Regions from separate parts of the Homo sapiens genome. Here regions 2, 3 and 4 are each linked to region 1. Evidence: fine-mapped expression QTL. A gene starts in region 1. Each other region holds a variant in brackets. All regions are shown on one strand. Distances are between the middles of the regions.

Region 1 (5,095 bases):
CAGAGATTCCCAGAAACAAATGCTCAAGCCTATAAAAGCCAGGACAAGCTGATTTGCCAGGAGAGGAAGACACAGGCCTGTGAAGAGAAGGGCCCCATGTGGGAGGAGCTCTGTCAATCAGGAGGGAGAGAGAGGGAGCACTGAGGAAGACGGGGAGAGGCTTTCCAGACTTGATCGTTCAGCCAGGCAGATCCAGGATGAAATAGCCGAGGAAGCGGGACAGAGGGAGGGAGGGAAGGTTTCTGAATAGTTGCATCAAAATAACAAAAAGAGAGATGAATAGAATGCAGATTTTAGAATTCACATTGGAAAAGAACATATGGGATGCAGGGAATGTGAGGATGGAGAAGAAAGCTGGGAAGAACAGGAGGGGAGAGAGTGGAGAGGACGGAGGTGTTGGGGAGAATGTGGGAAGGAGGAGCCCAGGAAGGAAGGGGAGGAGGATGGGAGGAGGAGGGCGTGGAGGGTGGAGGAGGGAGAATGGGTGTAAGCATGGAAAGTGTAAAGGGAGAGCGAGAGGGATGCAGGGCAAGCATGTCAACGAAAGACTGATCTCTTTGAGGCTGTTAATTTTAATTATGTAAAAATAACTTGACCTGTTTTTAGTGGAAATGCAGCCTTTCTGGAGACTTGTAAAAGAACAGAAATGGGAATTTCTGTGTCTCTTATAAAGTTCTTATAACTAAAAAAAAAAAAAAAAAAAAAAAAAATGCGGGAGGGGGACACGGGTTATTCAATGGTTGAGAAGTATTTGGTGTGGAATTTGTTTCACGTTCCTTTTTTTTTTTTTTTTTTTTTTTTTTTTTGAGACAGAGTCTTGCTGTGTCCTCTGTTGCCCAGGCTGGAGTGCAGTGGCACGATCTCAGCTTATTACAACACTGCAACCTCTGCGTCCTGGGTTCAAGCGATTCTCCTGCCTCAGCCTCCCAAATAGCTGGGACTACAGGCACACACCACCACACCCGGCTAATTTTTATATCTTTAGCAGAGATGGTGGTTCACCATTTTGGCCAGGCTGGTCTCAAACTCCTGACCTCAAACGATCCGCCATCCTCGGCCTCCCAAAGTGCTTGGATTACAGGCGTGAGCCACAGCGCTTGGCCTGTTTCATGTTTATTTAATGAGTTTTAAAACATGAACAAGGCACTTATGGATGCGTGGGGCAGCATGGGGGTTGGCCTTGTCACCTGGGGCACAGCTGAAGACTTTGCACAGGTTTCTGGTCTATCCTAGGTGAATGATGGTCTGCAGCGGGTGGGGAATGGGGGACTTCCCGTTGTATCCAAATGTTCAGGACAGGGAGTGTAGGAAAGGAGTGAGGGTGTAGGAGGAGATTGCAAATGGGAAGGGAGATGGGGACTCCCTTTCTGGCAGGCGGATAGCCCCAAAAGCCCAGGTTGGGTCTGGGGTCGCCAGCCCCGTAGCAGGTGTTTCTCTCCATGACAGCAGCCAGGAGGTGTCCCCAAGGGAACAAGACATTAGAGTGTGGGAGGCAAGACAGCTCCTCAGTGTTAGCTCTGGGGTGACAGTCCCTGGGGTCTGGCTTCCATGGTGCCGGGGAATGGAGAGCCAACGAGCTGTGGGGAGGGAGGCAGTTTCCACCTTTCTAGTGGCTCACGCACCCCCTCTCTCCCCAGCCCCTGGTGGCGGCGGCGTGTAACACCTTCCCGAGGAAACTCCGCTGCCGACCCTGCCTGAGCGCGGGAGCCTGAGGACCGGGTGGAGGCGGTGGGGACCCAGCCGCGCGCCGGGAGCGCTCCCCGGAATGAGCCGCCCCACCCACCCCAAGGCTGGAGCCGCTGCACCCTGCTGTCCCTCTCCAGGCCTTGGCAATGACGATCCCCCAAAGAGCCCGTCTGCACCCCAGACCCAGGGCCTCAGGCCTCCAGCTCCTGGGATCCGGGAGTCCATCCCGGCCCAGCACCCCCAGCATCCCCGTGTATGGCCCCCCTGCACCTCCTTGTCTCATCCCCGAAGATCCGTCCCCCTGGCCCCTCAGTGTCCATGTCTTGAGCTTAATAAATGTGCATTTGGTTTTTTCCTCTGTTCTGTCTGTGTGTTCTCATCTGTGGGGCACGGTGTGGGTAGGGGTGCAGAACTGAACCTGGGGTAGCTCTCCCCTGCGTGCCCGGAGTCGCCCCCTCTTCATTCTCCTCCCCCAGTGCCCCGAGATGCCCCCCTTCAATCCCTTCTCCTTCCTCAACACCTCCGGATTTGTCCTTTCCCTTCCTCCAGCGACCCCAGAATAGAGCCCTCCCGTTTCTCCCCCTGCTCTCTCAGAGGCGTCCACTCACCCTAGACCTGCCTGCCCCATCCCCGTTCCCACCCTCTCCCACCACTATGCCCTCACCCCTGCCCCCCGTCGCCCTCAGCGATTCCCCCTCCTGCTCCCACCCCGGGCTCTGAAGCCAGGAAACCCAAGAGGAAATGACTGAGCCCGTCTGGGTCCCCGCCCGCTCGCGCTCCCCTGGCCACACCCTCCGCCTGGACGCAGCAGCCACCGCCGCGTCCCTCTCTCCACGAGGCTGCCGGCTTAGGACCCCCAGCTCCGACGTAAGTCCCTCTCGTGCGCCACCTCCATCCGCTGCCCCTCTGCCCACGGGCCGGGCTCAGGTGGGTAGGGGTTTGACCCCTTCCGCTCCTCTCCGCCCCCCATCCACGCCCACATCTCTCTGCCTCCTCTCCTGGGCTACAGTGGGCCGCTCTGCCTCGCTCCCGCCCGCCTGCCTCAGTCTCCCCAGCTCTCTGCCACCCCCCTCGGACCAGTGCCTCTTAGGTCTCTCCAGCGCGCCATCCCTGCAAGGCGGCCCCTGACACCAACTCACTTTTTCCTCTGAGCGCGGGAGGCGTTACTCACTCTTCCTCCTTCCCCTCCTCGCCGACTCCCGGGCTCTGGGCCCCTGGGGGAGGGAAGAGGCCTCCTATCTACTCCTCTGCCCCAGTCCCCTCCTTGCGTCAGTCCCAGTGAGGGATAAGCGCCTGGCGGAAGGCGCAGGGAGGTGTTTCTCTGCTTCAGGAGTGCCCGCCGGCCCTTGCAGCTGCTGGAAGACCCATTTATCTCATGCTTCTTGTTTTCTTTGGGGACCTGCAGGGGAAGGAAGCAGGGTGACGGTTTGGTATCCCCACCTAAGACCCTCCCCTTTCCCCTGAGGCCAGCCGTCAGCCCCTGGCAGGGGGTCTTGGAAGCCAGAGGTTTTTGCTCAGGGCAGGGAAAGGGCTGCAGGATCCCCGGGGGCTGCCGGAGGTCGGTCTCACTGACATCATGGCTGACCCCAGCATCGCCTGGTCCCACAGATGTCGCCCTCTGGTCGCCTGTGTCTTCTCACCATCGTTGGCCTGATTCTCCCCACCAGAGGTAAGACCCATCTCTGGCCTCCACCCTGCCCCAGAGCCCCCAGCCAGGCCAGCCCCACGTGTGCTGCGGGGTGGGTGGTTGGCCCGTGTGAACGTTGTCCTGCCCTGTCACCCTCCCGCTGAGCCGGCACCAGGAAGTGGGGATCCCTATGGCGGGGCGACGTTACACCCTCTTTGGACACCTCAGACCCGGGTGGCTGCTTCCAGTGAGTCTGGCCAGGGCCTGTCCTGCTGAGCATCCTCCAATTTCACCTCCAAGAAGAACTCACTGAGTTTCATTTGGCGGGGAGATTGGTGTCGGTTTTCTACTCAGCAGCCAGGAAACCTAGGCTCCCAGAGTCCCCAGGCATTACACAGTTAGGCAAAGCTGTTGAGCTGGGGTTAGTCCAAAGAGTTGGCAACATCTCAGCCTTGCCTGGAAAGTGTCTCCTGAAAGATGGGAACCACAGGGGGGTATTGATCGTTCTTTCTGTGTGGCAGGTGTGGTGTGTGTTAGGTCAGTTAGGCTTTGCCTCTGACAGTCAGTCACACCTGTTGTCTTGCCCATTTTACTGATGAGGAAACTGAGGCTCAGCGAAGGGAAGTGCCCTGTGTCAGAGGAGAATGGGTGGAGGAGCTGAGAAAACAACTGTCCTGCCTGCCCCCAGAACCCAGGGTGCATGCCCCACTGAAGGCGCCCTCATTTCTCCTTCATAAAATGATTTTCATATACTCGTTCAGTCATTTGACAAATATTTATTGAGCACCTACTATGTGCTAGATATTCTGTGCACTGGGGAAACAGCACTGAATAAAACAAGAGGTCACACTCTAGTGGAGAGAGACAAGTTAGTAAATTATATCGTGTGCTAGGAGGTGATACGTGCTTGCAGAAAAGTAGAGGTAATGAGGATTGTTTAAACTGGGTGGTCAGGGAGGGCCTCACTGAGGAGGTGACATTTGGACCAACAAACACTTGGAGGAAATGAGGGAATGAGCTTTGCAGGTGTCTGGGGGCTGAGTGTTGTCTGGTGTGTTTTAAGAATAGCAGGCAGGTGGGGTGGCTGGGTTGGGATGAGAAGGGGCAGAGTGGGATGACGAGAGGACAGAGAAGTGATGGGACCAGATGGAGGAGGACTTACGGGCCACGTGAGGGCTTTGCTTTTATGTGGAGTGAAGTGCAGCCAGGGCAGGGCTCTGAACCAGGCGGGCCCCGACCTGACTCAGGTGGTCCCAGGCTCCCTCTGGCTGCAGGTTGGAACAGACTGTGGGGGCGGAGACAGGAGCAGGGAGCCCAAGAAGGAGGCTGCTGGGATGTCCAGGCTGGAGGGTACAGAGGCAGGACCAGGATGGGGGCAGTGGAGTTATCCAGCACTGACCACATGGTAAGCCGTGTGGGAGACCCTTTCCCTGCTCTGTGTCATTTCACCCTATCTACAGCCCTGTGAAGTAGATTCAGTTATTATCCCTGCTTTGCAGATGAAGCAACTGAGGCTCAGAGAAAGGACTTCACTTGTTCCAGGTCACACAGCAAGAAAGTTGTTGGGGGCAGGATTTGAAACCAGGGCCCAGGCTCACCCTAGCACCTGGGCTCACTAGACTAAACTGACTTTCCCATCCCACAGGGATGGGCGGGGAGGGGGACTAGAAGAAGGGTTCCCAGGCATTGGCATAGCTGAAAACACTTTCAGAATTATGGATTGATGCAGCCAAAGCTGAGTGATTCCACCAGCAGACAGGACCCCTAAGGTTTCACCAGGGA
Region 2 (5,095 bases), 33 kb after region 1:
CATTCCTTAGCACTGTAGGATGACTATAATTAGCAATGATTTATTGCACCATTCCTCAGGACAATCAACCAGTCTGCTGATGGCTAATTAATTACGTCGAACTGTCTCTTTTTTAATTTTCTTTTCTTTTTTGAGACAGAGTCTCGCTCTTGTCACCTAGGCTTGAGTGCAATGGAACAATCTCGGCTCATTGCAACCTCCACCTCCCAGGTTCAAGAGATTCTCCTGCCTCAGCCTCCTGAGTAGCTGGGATTATAGGCATCCATCACCACACCCAGCTAATTTTCATATTTTTAGTGAAGACAGGGTTTCATCATGTTGGCCAGGCTGGTCTCAAACTGCTGACCTCAGGTGTTCCACCCATCGCAGCCTCCCAAAATGTTGGGATTACAGGTGTGAGCCACTGCGCCCAGCCACATTGAACTGTTCCTGTCATGGAAAGGGCAACTCTTTTTTCTTATTTTAATTTTTTAATTTTTGTAATAGAATTCGCTTACCATACAATTCACATGCCATACAGTTCACACATTTAAAGCATACAAGCCGATCTGATTATTTCACATTGCATGCCTGTATCAAAACATCTCATGTTCTCCATAAATAAATACACCTATGATGTACCCACAGCAATTAAAAATTTTTAAAAATCATGTACAAGTCAATGGTTTTTAGTATATCCATAGATATGTACAGCCATCATCACGATCAATTTAAAAACATTTTTTTTTTTTGAGAGAGAGTCTTGCTCTGTCACCCAGGCTGGAGTGCAGTGGCATGATCACGGCTCACTGCAAACTTGGCCTCCCGGGTTTACGCCTTTCTCCTGCCTCAGCCTCCCGAGTAGCTGGGACTACAGGTGCCCGCCACCACGCCCAGCTAATTTTTTGTATTTTTAGTAGAGCCGGGATTTCACCATGTTAGCCAGGATTGTCTCGATCTCCTGACCTCGTGATCCACCTGCCTCGGCCTCCCAAAGCGCTGGGATTACAGGTGTGAGCCACCGTGCCCAGACCAATTTTAAAATATTTTTATCACCCCCACAAAAGAAACCCAATGCTCCATAGCTATTTTCCTCCTGTTCCCAAATGTCTCAGCCCTAAGCAACCACTAGTCTACTCTCTGTCTCTATATATTTTCCTATTTTGGACATTTCATATAAATGTATTCATATAATATGTGGTGTCTTGTGATTGGCTTCTTTCACTGAATGTAATGTCTTCAAGGTTCATCCGCATCATAGCATGTATCAGTACTATGTTCCTTTCTATGGCTGAATAATATTTCATTGTGTGGATTTACCACATATTGGGGTTTTTTTTGTTTTTTTTTTTACAGACCCCGCCCCCCCAAATATTGTTTATGCCTCCATCAGTTTGTAGATATTTGGTTTTGTTTTCACCTTTTGGCTATTATGAATAATATGAAAATAAACTTATGTATTTGTTATTATGTGGACATAAGTTTTCATTTCTCTTAGGAATAAAATTGCTGGGTCAAATGGTGACTGCATTTTTAACAGTTTGAGGAACTACTGGACTGTTTTCCATAGTGGCTGCAGTGATGAGGTGTGGTGGCTCACGCCTGTGATCCCAGCATTTTGGGAGGCCGAGGGGGGCAGATCATCTAAGGTCAGGAGTACGAGACCAGCCTGGCCAACATGGCGAAACCCCGTCTCTACTAAAAATACAAAAATTAGCCTGGCGTGCTGGCAGGCACCTCTAATCCCAACTACTCGGGAACCTGAGGCAAGATAATCCCCTTGAACCTGGGAGGCAGAGGTTGCAGTGAACCGAGATCACACTGCTGCATTCCAGCCTGGGCAACAGAGGGAGACTCTGTCTCAAAAGAAAAAAAAAGTTTTGTTGAACTAACTCATGAAGCCATCTGGTTTAAGACTTTTCTGTGTCCATTAAAATGATCATGTGGTTTTGTAATTTATTCTGTTGATATGGTGTATTACACTAATTTTCAGATGTGAAGCCACTGTTACATTCCTGGAATAAGTCCCACTTGGTCGTGGTCTATAACACTTTTTATATGTCTCTGGATTTAGTTTGCTAGTATTGTGTTAAGGATATTTGCATTTATATTTATAAGAGATATTTGTCTGTAGTTTTCTTGTGTCTTTCTCTGGTTTTTGTACTGGGGTAATACTGGTCCCAAATAATCCACTGGAAAGCGTTGCCTCCTTTTTTTAATTTTTGCAAGAGTTTGAGAAGAATTGGTATTAGCTCTTCTTTAAATTTTTAGAAAAATCTGCCAGTGAAGCTATCTGGTTCTTGGTGTGTGTGTGTGTGTGTGTGTGTGTGTGTGTGTGTATGTGTGTGTGTGTCTTTGGTCATTAATTCAATCTCTTTACTTATTAGAGGACTATTCAAATTGTCTGATTTCTCTTGAATCAGTTTCAGTAGTATATGTCTTCTAATAATTTATTTCAACTGGGCGCAGTGGCTCACGCCAGTCCCAACACTTTGAAAGGCCAAGGCAGGTGGATCACTTGAGGTCAGGAGTTCGAGACCAGCCTGGCCAACATGGTGAAACCCCATTTCTGCTAAAAATACAAAAATTAGCCAGGCATGGTGGTGGGTACCTGTAATCCCAGCTACTTTGGAGGCTGAGCAGGATAATCGCTTGAATCCGGGAGGC[T/A]GAGGTTGCAGTGAGCCAAAATCACACCACTGCACTCCATCCTGGGCGACAGAGCAAGACTTCATCTCAAAAAAAAAAAAAAAAAAAAAGAATTTACGGCCAGCACGATGGCTCATGCCTGTAATCCCAGCACTTTGGGAGGCTGAGGAGGGTGGATCACTAGGTCAGGAGTTCAAGACCAGCCTGGCCTCAAGACCAGCCTGGCCAACATAGTGAAACCCTGTCTCTACTAAAAATACAAAAAAATTAGCCAAGAGTGGTGGCGGGCGCCTGTAGTCCCAGCTATTTGGGAGGCTGAGGCAGGAGAATCGCTTGAACCCAGGAGGTGGAGATTGCAGATCGCCACCATGCCTGGCTAATTTTTGTATTTTTAGTAGAGACAGGGTTTCGCCATGTTGGCCAGGCTGGTCTCGAACTCCTGACCTCAGGTGATCCTCTCACCTGAACCTCCCAAAGTTCTATGATTACAGGCATGAGCCACTGTGCCCAGCCGCATGATTTTGATTTTAATTTTAAAATCAAAATTTTATACAGATTTGTTTTGTTGCCTAGTGCAGGTTCTATCCTACAGAATATTCTCCGTGCAGTCGAGAAGATTGTGTATTCTGCTTTTGTTGGGAGAAGTGTGCTATAGTTGTCTGTTATATCTGGTTGATTAATACTGTTCAGATCTTCCATTTTCTTGTTGATTTTATGCCTAGTTGTTCTATCCATTATTGGAAGTGAGGTACTGAAGTCTCCAACTATTATTGTGGATTTGTTCATTTCTCTATTCATTTTTATTAGTTTTTGCTTTATGTATTTTGGTGCTTTATTATTAGATGTATATGTGTTTATATTGTTATATATTCTGATGGACTGACCGCCTTATCATTATACAATGCTTCTCTTTATCTGTAATAACTTTTTTGTTACAAAGCTTATTTTTTCTGACGTTAGTATTGCCACTCCAGCTTTCTTGTAGTCACTGCATGATATATTGATATATTGTCTTTCATCATTTTACTTTACATTTTTGAATCTTACATGTTTTTCCTATAGATAGCTTTTGGCTGTATCTTGGTTTTTAAAAAAAATCTAGTCTGAAATATTTGACTTTTAATTGAATTGTTCATTTCATCAACATTTAATGTTATTATTTATACAATTGGATTTACATCTGCCATATTAGCTTGTGTTTCCTACAAAATTTCTTTATTAGTGCCAGGGGTTTTTTGTTTTATTTATTGATTGATTTTATATTTATTGAGATTTTCTACATAAACAATCATTTCAACTGGGGATGGGAACAGTTTTATTTTTTCCTTCCCAATCTATATGCCTCTTACTTCCATTTCTTGACTTATTACACTGGCTAAGACTTTCAATATGATGTTGAATAGAAATGGTGAACATGCTTGTCTTGTTCCCAATCTTAAGAAAGAAAGCATTCATTTTTCACTGTTTGGTATGATATTAGCTGTAGGCTTTTTGATGCTCTTTATCAGGTTGATGAAGTTCTCTTCTATTCCTAGTTTGCTAGGATTATTTTTTGCAAAACAAAACAAAACATGTATGAGTGTTTTATTTTGTCAATACTTTGTCTGCACCTATTGATATAATCATGATTTTTCTTCTTTAGATGGTTAATATGGTAATAGTGATTGATTTTAAAAAATTGGACCATTGTTGCATTCTTAGTATAAATCCCATTTGGTCATAGTTTATTGTATTTATTCATTTATTATTATTATTATTTTGAGACAGAGTTTCACTCTTGTTGCCCAGGCTGGAGTGCAATGGCAGGATCTCGGCTCACCCCAACCTCTGCCTCCTGGGTTCAAGTGATTCTCCTGCCTCATCCTCCTAAGTAGCTGGGATTACAGGCTGTGCACCACCATGCCTGGCTAATTTTGTATTTTTAGTAGAGATGAGTTTTCTCCATGTTGGTCAGTCTGGTCTTGAACTCCTGATCTCAGGTGATCCGCCCACCTCAGACTCCCAAAGTGCTGGGATTACAGGTGTGAGCCACCGCGCCCGGCCGGTCATAGTTTACTACTCATTTTACATATTGCCGAGTTCAATTTGCTAACATTTTATTGAGTATTTTTGCATCTATATTCATGAGGAGTATTTTAGTTGTGTTTATTATTATTTTTTGTACTGTCTATCTGGTTTGTCATCAGGGTAATGCTGGCTTCATAACATGAGTTGGAGAGTATTTCTCCTTTTGTATTTTCTGGAAGAAATTATGAAGAATTAGTGCTATTTCTTCTTTAAATTACTTATTTAAAACCATTGAAACCACCTGGGCCAGGAGATTTTTTAAAATGGCATTAACTATACATGCAATTTATTTAATAGTTACTAGACTATTCATATTATCTATTTCAACAGTGGTGAATGTAGTAGCTGGTAGTTTTTGAGAAATTGGTCCATTTCATCTAAATTTTGATATTTATGTGTATAG
Region 3 (5,095 bases), 80 kb before region 1:
TGAGGACTGGGCCCAGGTGTGGCAGGCCAGGTCTCACTAACGCAGGCCTCCATAACAACTGTTTCAGCACCGACTGAGTGGCTAAGTCAAATATTAAAAGCTGATAGAGCCAGTGCCCTATACAAAAGCTGGAATGTAACAAAAGCCTACCAAGAGTTTTGCTCAGGCCTTTCCTGGGCTTTAAAGCATGACAAGATAAAGAATGAATTCTTAACAGGACCCTTTTAGGATTAAACAAGTTTAATTGGGGGTCTGAAGAAACTACACTTACACACAGGCATATAGCTTAGAAGGTATATAAGCTCTGGAAAACTTTGTAATTTTGAGTTGGTCTGGGGACAATTTCCAGGCTTTCACCCTATAACCAGTTACAGAAATAAAAACTCCCTTTTCGCTGGGTGCGGTGGCTCATGCCTGTAATCCCAGCACTTTGGGAGGCCGAGGTAGGCGGATCACCTGAGGTCAGGAATTCGAGACAAGCCTGACCAACATGGAGAAACCCCGTCTCTACTAATAATACAAAAATTAGCCAGGCATGGTGGTGGGTGTTGGTAATCCCAACTACTTGGGAGGCTGAGGCAGGAGAATTGCTTGAACCCGGGAGGCAGAGGTTGCCGTGAGCCGAGACAGTGCCATTGCACTCCAGCCTGGGCGATAGGGCGAGACTCCGTCTCAAAAAACAAAAACAAAAACAAAAACAAAAACAAAAAAAACCTCCCTGTTCTCCCAGTTTATCTGCATCTCATCACTGGGCCATGAGAAATAGCAGCCTAATCCTCAGTTTGGTCCAGGAACACAGGTGACCCTCTGTCCCATGTGGTTTGACCAGGTAAAGGGCTGTCTGGGGTTTGAGGGTCTGGAGCACCCCTTTGGGACACTGCTTTGAAGATGGAGTCCCCAGTGCCTAACTCTGAGCCTCCTCCACCAGGGTGGTCCGTGAATCTCACAGGTGCACAGTAACGAGCCCCCTTGCCTGTATGCTCCTCCTCCCCGTCTCCCCGTTCACGTCTCCAGGCGAATCTCCCCTTCTGGGTCCAGTAACACTCCTAAATGCCTGACCTTGACTATCCACCATGGCAGCCCCAGCCATGCCCTGCAGATGCCCACCCCTGGGCCCCCGGGGCTGGCCAGCAGCCCACGAGTCTCCCCAGCCACACATCTTGGCCCTGCTTGATGCACATGCACTCCGTTCCTGGATGCTGTGTGCTCATCTCTAACCTGCTCCAAGAGAACCAGCAGGGCCCCATGGGAAGAGGCTCCCTGCATGTTCAGCTGTCTGTCAGCAGCGGCCCTTCACCAAGCAGTGGCTCAACTTTCCCACTGTGGATCGCTTGACTTGTGCCCAGCCCTGCTAATGGGTGGGGGGTTCCTCCAGGGTCTGGCAACCCGGCCCCCTGGGAAAGCCCTGGAAGATTTCCATCCCCTCTTTCCTCCCTTGCCCTGCCCACCAACCCCAGACCTGGCCCAGCCTCAGGCAGACCGGATGGGAACCAGGATCCCTGGGAGACCCCCAGGCCCCCTGGACCCTCGAACAATGGAAGGTGAGCTCCAGCTGCCCCGTCCCCACCCTGGCCCCACCTCTGCCCTGGTATAAGCCCGCCTGGCCCGCAGCACCTGCAGCCACCATGGGGATACTGTGGCTTCTGCTGGTGGGTGAGTAGGAGTGGGGACTCTGGAAGGGGGTCGACTGTGCCACGTGGGCCCCAGCCCTTAGCTGACATCCTTCCCCTCAGTCCTACAGAACCAAGTGACTTGGAGCAAGGAGATCAGAGGTGAGAATGGATGTGCTCCCTAACCTGGAGAGAGGACAGGGCCATGTGGACAGGCAGGGAGGGCTCCAGGGGTCTGAGGAGCCATGGCCCCACCCTGGAGTCCCTCAGGGGACCTGGAGCTTTCTCTTGGGGACTGAGGGGACACAGCCCTGCCCTGGGGCTCTGAGGGGAGCCTCAGTGGTCTCGTGTCCCCAGCCTCGCTCCTGTACCCCTATGGGCTGGAGTGTGGGGATCAGGCCCTCCCTGCAGAGGATGATGACTTCTCTGAGGAGCTGCGGCTGCTGGAGCCCTTCATGCTCTTTGAAGCCACACACGGGACGGCCTATGTGAGTGCCCTGGCCCTGACCGTGCGGTCCCTGGGCTCTCTCTCTTCTCCCCACCCCACTCTTGACTCGGAGCCTGTCTATATCTATAGCTCCTGGCTCCTTCTGGCTTCGTCCTCTGTCTTCCTGGGGCGGGCCCTGTCCCTCTTCTG[T/C]CCCCTGCCCTGCCAACACCCCCCTGCGGGTCTTGCCCTTCCTCACTTCCCCCAGTTCTGCACCAATGGGCTGGTGTCCTTCGGGGAGCCTGTGGCTCTCTTCACACTGGAGGCATTTCCCCAGGAGATGGGCCAGGCCTTCGCAGTCCCGTTCTGGGCCAATGGGTCCACACTGAGCAGGGGCCAGATGTGGTACCGGCAGAGCCGCCAGCCAGAGCTGCCGCAGCAGGTGGCCTGAGACCTGGCCTCAGCCTTCCCCCATGCCCCGCCCACCCCTTGCGCCCTGCTGGTGGCCATGTGGGACCAAATTCCATTTTACGGGGCACTTGGTCCCCAGGTGAGGAAGCGGGTGGCAGAGAAGGGCCCAGGCTGAGGCTGTTTGGCCCAACCCCTTGGGAAGAAGGGCTTGGATTCCTGGGTAAGGAGGAGACACCACGGAGGAGAGACGGAGATGGGGGAACGAGGGAGAGATAGAGGGGGCGGGAAGAGAGAGACAGAGAGACGGAAGCATGGAGATGCAGCGAGGTAGAGAAAATGGGTGAGAAAGAGGGAAGACACGAACAGGGAGAGAAATGGCGAGAGAGAGGAGGCAAGACAGCAAGCGAGAGGAGTGAGATGATCAGATGGAGAGACAGAGAATAGGAAAAGGAGAGAGACGGAGAGAGAGAGGGGATGAGAGCAGAGCAGAAAAATCGAGACTGGGGGATGTGAAAGGAAGGCTGGCACAGGTGCCAGCAGAGGCAGCTGTGGACATGGTGTGGACAGGGGCCTGGGAGGTGGCGTGGATGGGGGTCTGGGATGTGGCATGGGTAGGGGCCCGGGATGTGGTGTGGATGGGGGCCCAGGAGGTGGCACAGCTGGAAGCAGCCAGCTTAGTGGTGCAGATGGAGCTCGGTTGAGGACTGGGCAGTGAGGAGGGTCCTGGGTGCCCCTGGACCAGCCCACGACACCCTGGCTCCTGGCGCTTGCCCTGCAGGTGAACACCTTCCAGGAGGTGCTGGCCCTGGGCAGCGGCCCCTCCTGGGTGCTGTTTCACCACAAGGACATCCAGTGGACCATGGGGGTGGCCAGCGGTGGGAGCCCCCACCACGGCCTGGGGGGCATTGCGGCCCAGGTGAGTGGGGAACCCACAGGGGCCTCCCTGGGTCCTTGGGGAGGGTGAGGACGCAGGTGGGCTGACCCTGTTCCAAATGACACCCCCAGGCAGGCTTCAACAGCGGCCGACAGAGGGACTACTTCACCCTTCCTGGCTCCCGGACCTCAGGCATCCTGAATGTGGCAGACACCAGCAATGTGGGCATCCCCAGGCACTAGGCCTTCTGCATCAACAGCTTTGCAGTCCCCAACGGCTGCACCTACAATGGTGAAGGGTGGAGAACCTGCCCCAGACCTGCCTGCTCCCAGGGCCCAGCCACAGAGCCCAGGAGCCCAGGCCCCACACTCTCCTCCTCCAAGACCCAGGAGTCCAGTCAGCCCTCAGTCCATTCCATCCTTAGATCCAGGAATCAGAGGCCGGGCGGGGTGGCTCATGCCTGTAATCCCAGCACTTTGGGAAGCCGAGGCAGGCGGATTACCTGAGGTTGAGGGTTCGAGGCTTGACCAACATGGAGAAACCCCGTCTCTGTTAAAAATACAAAATTGGCCGGGCATGGTGGCACATGCCTATAATCTTAGCTACTTGGGAGACTGAGGCAGGAGAATTGCTTGAACCCAGGAGGCGGAGGTTGCAGTGAGCCAAGATCGCGCCATTGCACTCTAGCCTGGGCAACAAGAGCGAAACTCTGTCTCAAATTAAAAAAAAAAAAAAAGATCCAGGAGTCAGAACCCCCAGTCCCCACCTTCCTCAGGACCTGAGGTTCAAGCCTCAGCCCCAGACACCCCCACCGCAGCCCACTCTCTCCACAGCCCAGTTCCTGCCCCTAGGTGCCTCTTTGTGGAACAGCAGTGCCTGCAGCCACCACACTGTGGGCAGGAAGGCCGGGTGTGGTGCTGGCCAGAGGGCTGCCAGGTGGGGCAGCAGTGTATGCCTGCACACCCCTTCCCACACTGCTGGGCCCCTCGTGGCCCCTCCTGCCACCTGGGTCCCCAGGGCCACCCGCACACACTCTCCAGATGGCAGCTGTGGCTCCAGCCCTGCCACTTCGTCCTGGCCCTGCTTCCTGGCATCTGCGTGGAGGTGGAGTTGAGGAGGGGAGGCCCGGTGGCAGAGGCCCTGGTGCGGCTGGTCATCCATGGCTGGGATGTGGTAGTGAGATCGCATGGCCCAATAGAACACATCCTGGTGAGTGGGGCTGGGAGCCGGGCTGGAGGATAGAACCCGGACAGCCGTGGAGTCGCAGACACACTAAGTGCCCACAGCCCCAGAGACTGCCACAGAGACTGGCGGGCAGAGTCAAATGTTAGATGGACAGGCAGGCAGACAGACAGACAAAATGAATAACAGGCAGAGAGACGGACAAGAAGACAGACCAGCTGGCCAATGGACAGGAAGACAGGAGGGTTGGACAGGTGGACAGGTTGATGGAAAGACAGACAGAGTGACGTTGGGATGACCAGAGCAGGTGGCAAGACAGACGGCAGAAGGGGGCTAGATGGACAGAAGGACACATGGCGAGCAGATGGCGAAGCACTTGGTGGACTCGCTGAGGCCGACGATGGTCGCAGGCAGACAGAGCCTCCCGGGCTCTCATCCTAGCCATGGACCTCACATTGCCCACCGATGCAGCCCTCCGGGGCCTCAGCGCCACCTGTCCCCTTGACCCCACCTTTCTCTGTTATACAACCCAGTTTCTGCCGCCCACCCTCTGGTTTCCTGACTGGTTGACCTCACTGGCCGCCCCATCTGCTG
Region 4 (4,558 bases), 40 kb after region 1:
TTTAATCTACAAATTTCCTTAAATTTAAAGAGTTTCTTGTTGAGAGCATATAGTTAAGTGAATTTTTTAATCTATTCTCATAATCTCTTTTAATTCATATATTTAGACCATTTACATTTAATGTAATAATTGATATGTTTGGGTTGGGTATACCATTTTATCATGTGTTTTCTATTTGTTTCATTTATTTTTTATTTTATTTTTTTTCTGAGATGGAGTCTTGCTCTGTTTTCCAGGCTGGAGTGCAGTGGCATGATCTCAGCTCACTGCAACCTCCGCCTCCTGGGTTTAAGCAATTCTCCTGCCTCAGCCTCCTGAGTAGCTGGGATTACAGACACCCACCACCACACCCTGCTAATTTTTGTATTTTTAGTAGAGATGAGGTTTCACCATGTTAGCCAGGCTGGTCTCGAACTCCTGACCTCATGATCTGCCTGCCTCAGCCCCCCAAAGTGCTAGGATTACAGGTATGAACCACTGTGCCCAGCCTATTTTGTTTTTGTTCCTCTCTTTTTCCTTTCCTGACATTTTTTTTGCTTATTTGAACATAGTTTAGTCTTCCATTTTAAGTTATCAATTATGATTTTTACTATAACTATTTGTATAAGTTTTAGTGGTAACTCTAGGGATTACAAAATGCACACTGAACTTTTTACACTGTATTTAGAAACAATATTTTATCACTCAAAACTTTAGCACTAGTAGGTCTCTTAATTCTCCCCCTTATGTTATACTTGTCATGTATTACATACACATTCATGAAAATTCCATGGCCAATGTTATAGTTTTTTTTTTTTCCAACTGTAAAACAGATTTTAAGGAACTCAAGAGGAGAATAGCCTATTATATTTACCCAGGTAGTTATTACTTCTGTTGTTCCTCCTTTATTCCTGATGTTCCAAGTTTCCTTCCGGTATCATTTCCCTTCTGTCTGAAGCAATTCCTTTAGCAATGTTTTTTACAGCATTTCCGCTGGGTATGAATTTTCTTAGTTTTACTTAATCTAAGAATGTCTTTATTTCGCCTTTATTCCTGAAAGTTATTTTCACTGGAGATAGAATTCCAGATTGACACTTATTTTCTTTCAGCACTTTAAGAATATTAGGCCATTTCCTTCTGGCTTCCATGGTTTCTGCTGAGAAATATGCCATCATTTGAATTATTCACATGTATTGGCTTGTTGGGTTTTTTTTCTTTTCTTTTTTTTTTTTTTTTTCTTCTTTCAAGATATTTTCTTCATATTTAATTTTTAGCAGTTTAATTATGATTTGTCTGTGCATGGATTTCTGTGGGTTTATCCTATTTGGGGTTCACTTAGCTCCTTGAATCTGCAGGTTTAAGTCTGTATATAGGGAAAACAAACTGTTTTTCCTCTTCTATACTCACCCTCAGCACTCAACACTTCTGATGCCAGATGTGTGGGGTTCCTTCCCCCCCCAAACAAGCAATTCTCCTATGGCAGTTGGGAGTCCTACAATTCAATTCAGTTCTAACACTATTTACCTAGAGACAGTGTCAGATCCCAAAAGTTAAGGGCTCAGTCCCGTAAGACTGCATCCCACTTCAGATGTCAATCATAAGTGATAGATTCCCAGGTTATCCACAACTTCTGTCTGACTTGGCTACAAATTACAGGTTCACAAGATCCTTTACTTGGGTTCAGTCATTTGCTAGAATGGCTCACAGAACCCACTCTGTATGCTGAAACTGAGAATTAACTTGATTAAGCCCACTGAACTTAAACTGCCTTACTTACTTTTAATTCCTTACTTCTAGTTAATCTTAATAACTATATAGCTAAAAGTCATGTAACTAAGCAATCTACTATCTTCCTTATAGATAATATCTCTGATGTATAGGTCACCATGGTAACAGTTGCTTAAAGTTATTTTTCATGAATTTGGGGTCAGCTCTTGTCCAGTTCAAGCCGCTTGAGACCACTTCACCTGGGCCTGCGTGAATGTCCAAGAGGTGAGCTTCTGACACCAGAGGGCCATAAAGATCTTCCTACAGATCATACTAACGCCACCATTTTCTAAACATGCTTCCTATGAAGAGCCATGAGGCTTGACTATGTGTGTGCAGATTGCCAATTACCTCACTTTTTCTTATCCCAATTCCCTTTCTCCACACCTCAGACCACTCTGCTTCTTTATCTCATAAATATCCCTAAATCCCATCTTTGGGGAGGCAGATTTGAGACCCATTCACCCACCTCCTCACTTGGCTGTCTCATGAACAAACCCTTTATTTTTTGCAAAACCTTTCGCCACAGTGATTGGCTTATTGAGTGCAGGCAAAATGAACCTTGCTCAGTATCAGTATTTACCCACTTGTTACAAAGAATCCAAATCAGGAACAGCCGGATGGAAGATGCATAGGGCAAGATATGAGGGAAGGGGTGCAGAGCTTCATGTCCT[G/T]TCCAGCTGTACCTGCCTCCTAGCATTTCCACTTGTTCAGCAACCCAGAAGCTCTCAGAACCCTATCTGTTAGGGTTTTGGTGGAAAGCTTCATTACATAGGCATGATTGATTGCATCGTTGGCCTTTGGTGATGAACTCTACCTTCACTCCCCGTCCCGCTCCCCAGAGATGGAGGTGGGGTGTGGCTAGAAGTTCTAGCCCACTCATCACGTGTTTGGTTCTCTGGGCAAGGAGACCTCATTCTGAAGCTGTCCTGGATCCCCCAACCATCAGTCATCTCATTAGCATACAAAAATATTTCAGTTGTTTTAGGAGCAGTGTGTCAGGAAGTGGGGGAAGGCATAGACCAAAATTTATTTCTTGGCCGGGTGCGGTGGCTCATGCCTGTAATCCCAGCAGTTTGGGAGGCCGAGGCGGATGGATCATTTGAGGTCAGGAGTTGGAGACCAGCCTGGCCAACATGGTGAAACCCCGTCTCTACTAAAAATACAAAAATTAGCCAGGCATGGTGGCGCATGCCTGTAATCCCAGCTACTCGGGAGGCTAAGACAGTAGAATCGCTGGAACCCAGGAGGCAGAGGTTTCAGTGGCACCACTGCACTCCAGCCTGGGCGACAGAGCTAGACTCTCTCAAAAAAAAAAAAAAAAAAATTACTTCTTATTATGTCACAATGGCTTTTGCTAAACTTGAGATGTTTTCTGTCATTATTTCTTCAAAATATTTTTCAGCACCGCACTTTCCTCTGGCCTCTGGGATACAAATGTTAGACCTTTGTGGTTGTCCCACAGGTTCCTAAGGCACTGTTCAATTTTTTTTTTTAAGTCTTTTTTCTTTCTACTATACAGATTTGGTTATTTTTATTGTTGTATCTTTATGTTGACTGACTCTCTTCTCCCATCTCCATTTTGTTATTGAGCCCATTCGATGAATATTTTATTTTGGTTATAGTGTTTTTCAGTTGCACAATTTCCATTTGTTTCTTCTTCATGTGTTTTATTTCCTTGCTGATATCTTTAATATTTGTTTTAAGAGTTTTTTTATATAATTGCAAAGTTTACATCATTGCAATAGCATGAATTGATTGTCTTTTCCCATGAGAGTTAAGAATTTTGGTATCCTTTGTATGCCAAGTAATTTTGGACTGCATCCTGCACATTTTGAACATTATATTATGACACTCTGAGTCTTGTTTAAATCCTATTGAGAATATTGATGGTTTTGTTTTAGTGGCCAGTTAACCTGGGTAAATTCAGACTGCTAAGTTCCTACTTGCCTTCTATGCCCTGTAGTTCCAATGTCAGTTCAGTTTTTGAAGCATTTGCAATGCTATTCTGATCTATCTTCCAAATGTGTCATCCAGTGGTCAGTCTGGGCCCTGGGCAGAAGTCTAATCATTAGCTCAGTTTCCAGTCTGCGGCATGCTAATTAGGGCCAGATGAGTCCATGAGTTCATAAATAACTTTATGGGGTGACTTTCTCAAGCCCTTCCCTCTCTGTTATCTTCCGATACTTTCTGGTTCCCTGGGCTCCCCTTTCTGATCCTCCAGACAGAAACTGCCCAATTTCATGATTGTGCCAGGTCTAGGATCAAGAGGTTGGAGAACAGAGAGGGAGAAAAAAAAGCAATGGAGTCTGATCCTTTCCACTGAATGGAGAGAAAAGTCCTTTCCTGAATTTTTGGCTTCTGCCAGCTGCTCTGCTACTGCAATGGGATTGCTCGAAAGAAAACAGAAAAGGGGGAGAAAATAAATTCTCCCCACTCTCTCTGAACTTTAGGAGTACCCTTTCCTGCTCCTTCAGCCAGGCCTCTCCTAGGTTTCTCCCTGTCTGCACCACAGTGCTCATTTCCAAGTTTTGGACTGTATTGAGTTCAGGTCAGGGGATACAGGAGGAAAATAATATAGTAAACTCATCATTGATTTGGTGGCACTTTGAATTTTTGTGTTCCTTTCCCAATGCAACTGTTGTAACTGACTTTCCAAAATTGTCAAATAGCTGGGCCATGTATTCTGTCTGGATTTTCTAGTTGTGTTCAGTGGAAAAGAAAGTGTAGCACGTGTTTACTCCTTCTTGCCTGGGTTTACTACTTCTTTCCCAGAACTGGAACTTGAAATGGACTTTTGAAGATTTGGTTT

What was found. PIP is the estimated chance that this variant, and not a neighbour inherited with it, causes the effect. A credible set is the group of variants that fine-mapping cannot tell apart.
Region 2: its variant is the best candidate, but not a certain one, in a credible set for the expression of FXYD5 in whole blood (TOPMed, PIP 0.57).
Region 3: its variant is the best candidate, but not a certain one, in a credible set for the expression of FXYD5 in nasal epithelium (TOPMed, PIP 0.89).
Region 4: its variant is the best candidate, but not a certain one, in a credible set for the expression of FXYD5 in whole blood (INTERVAL, PIP 0.71).

The regions. Positions count from the first base shown.
Region 1 is chr19:35,152,257-35,157,351 of GRCh38, forward strand. FXYD5 (FXYD domain containing ion transport regulator 5) reads left to right here and starts at 2,479. Exons shown (of 9, transcript NM_014164.6): 1 at 2,479-2,553; 2 at 3,295-3,355. The coding sequence starts at 3,295. It overlaps FXYD7 (FXYD domain containing ion transport regulator 7), which reads left to right. Exons shown (of 6, transcript NM_022006.2): 6 at 1,638-2,046. The coding sequence ends at 1,660. RefSeq lists enhancers at 1-497, 1,447-2,311, 3,250-3,419.
Region 2 is chr19:35,185,590-35,190,684 of GRCh38, forward strand. No RefSeq gene overlaps it. Among named protein-coding and RNA genes, the nearest start is that of FXYD5, 33 kb to the left of the region's middle. The variant T/A (reference allele first, on the strand shown) is at 2,647.
Region 3 is chr19:35,072,575-35,077,669 of GRCh38, forward strand. The region is part of intron 3 of HPN-AS1 (HPN antisense RNA 1); the gene reads right to left. It also overlaps the pseudogene LOC100421064. Among named protein-coding and RNA genes, the nearest start is that of HPN-AS1, 31 kb to the right of the region's middle. The variant T/C (reference allele first, on the strand shown) is at 2,248.
Region 4 is chr19:35,192,214-35,196,771 of GRCh38, forward strand. No RefSeq gene overlaps it. Among named protein-coding and RNA genes, the nearest start is that of FAM187B, 34 kb to the right of the region's middle. The variant G/T (reference allele first, on the strand shown) is at 2,421.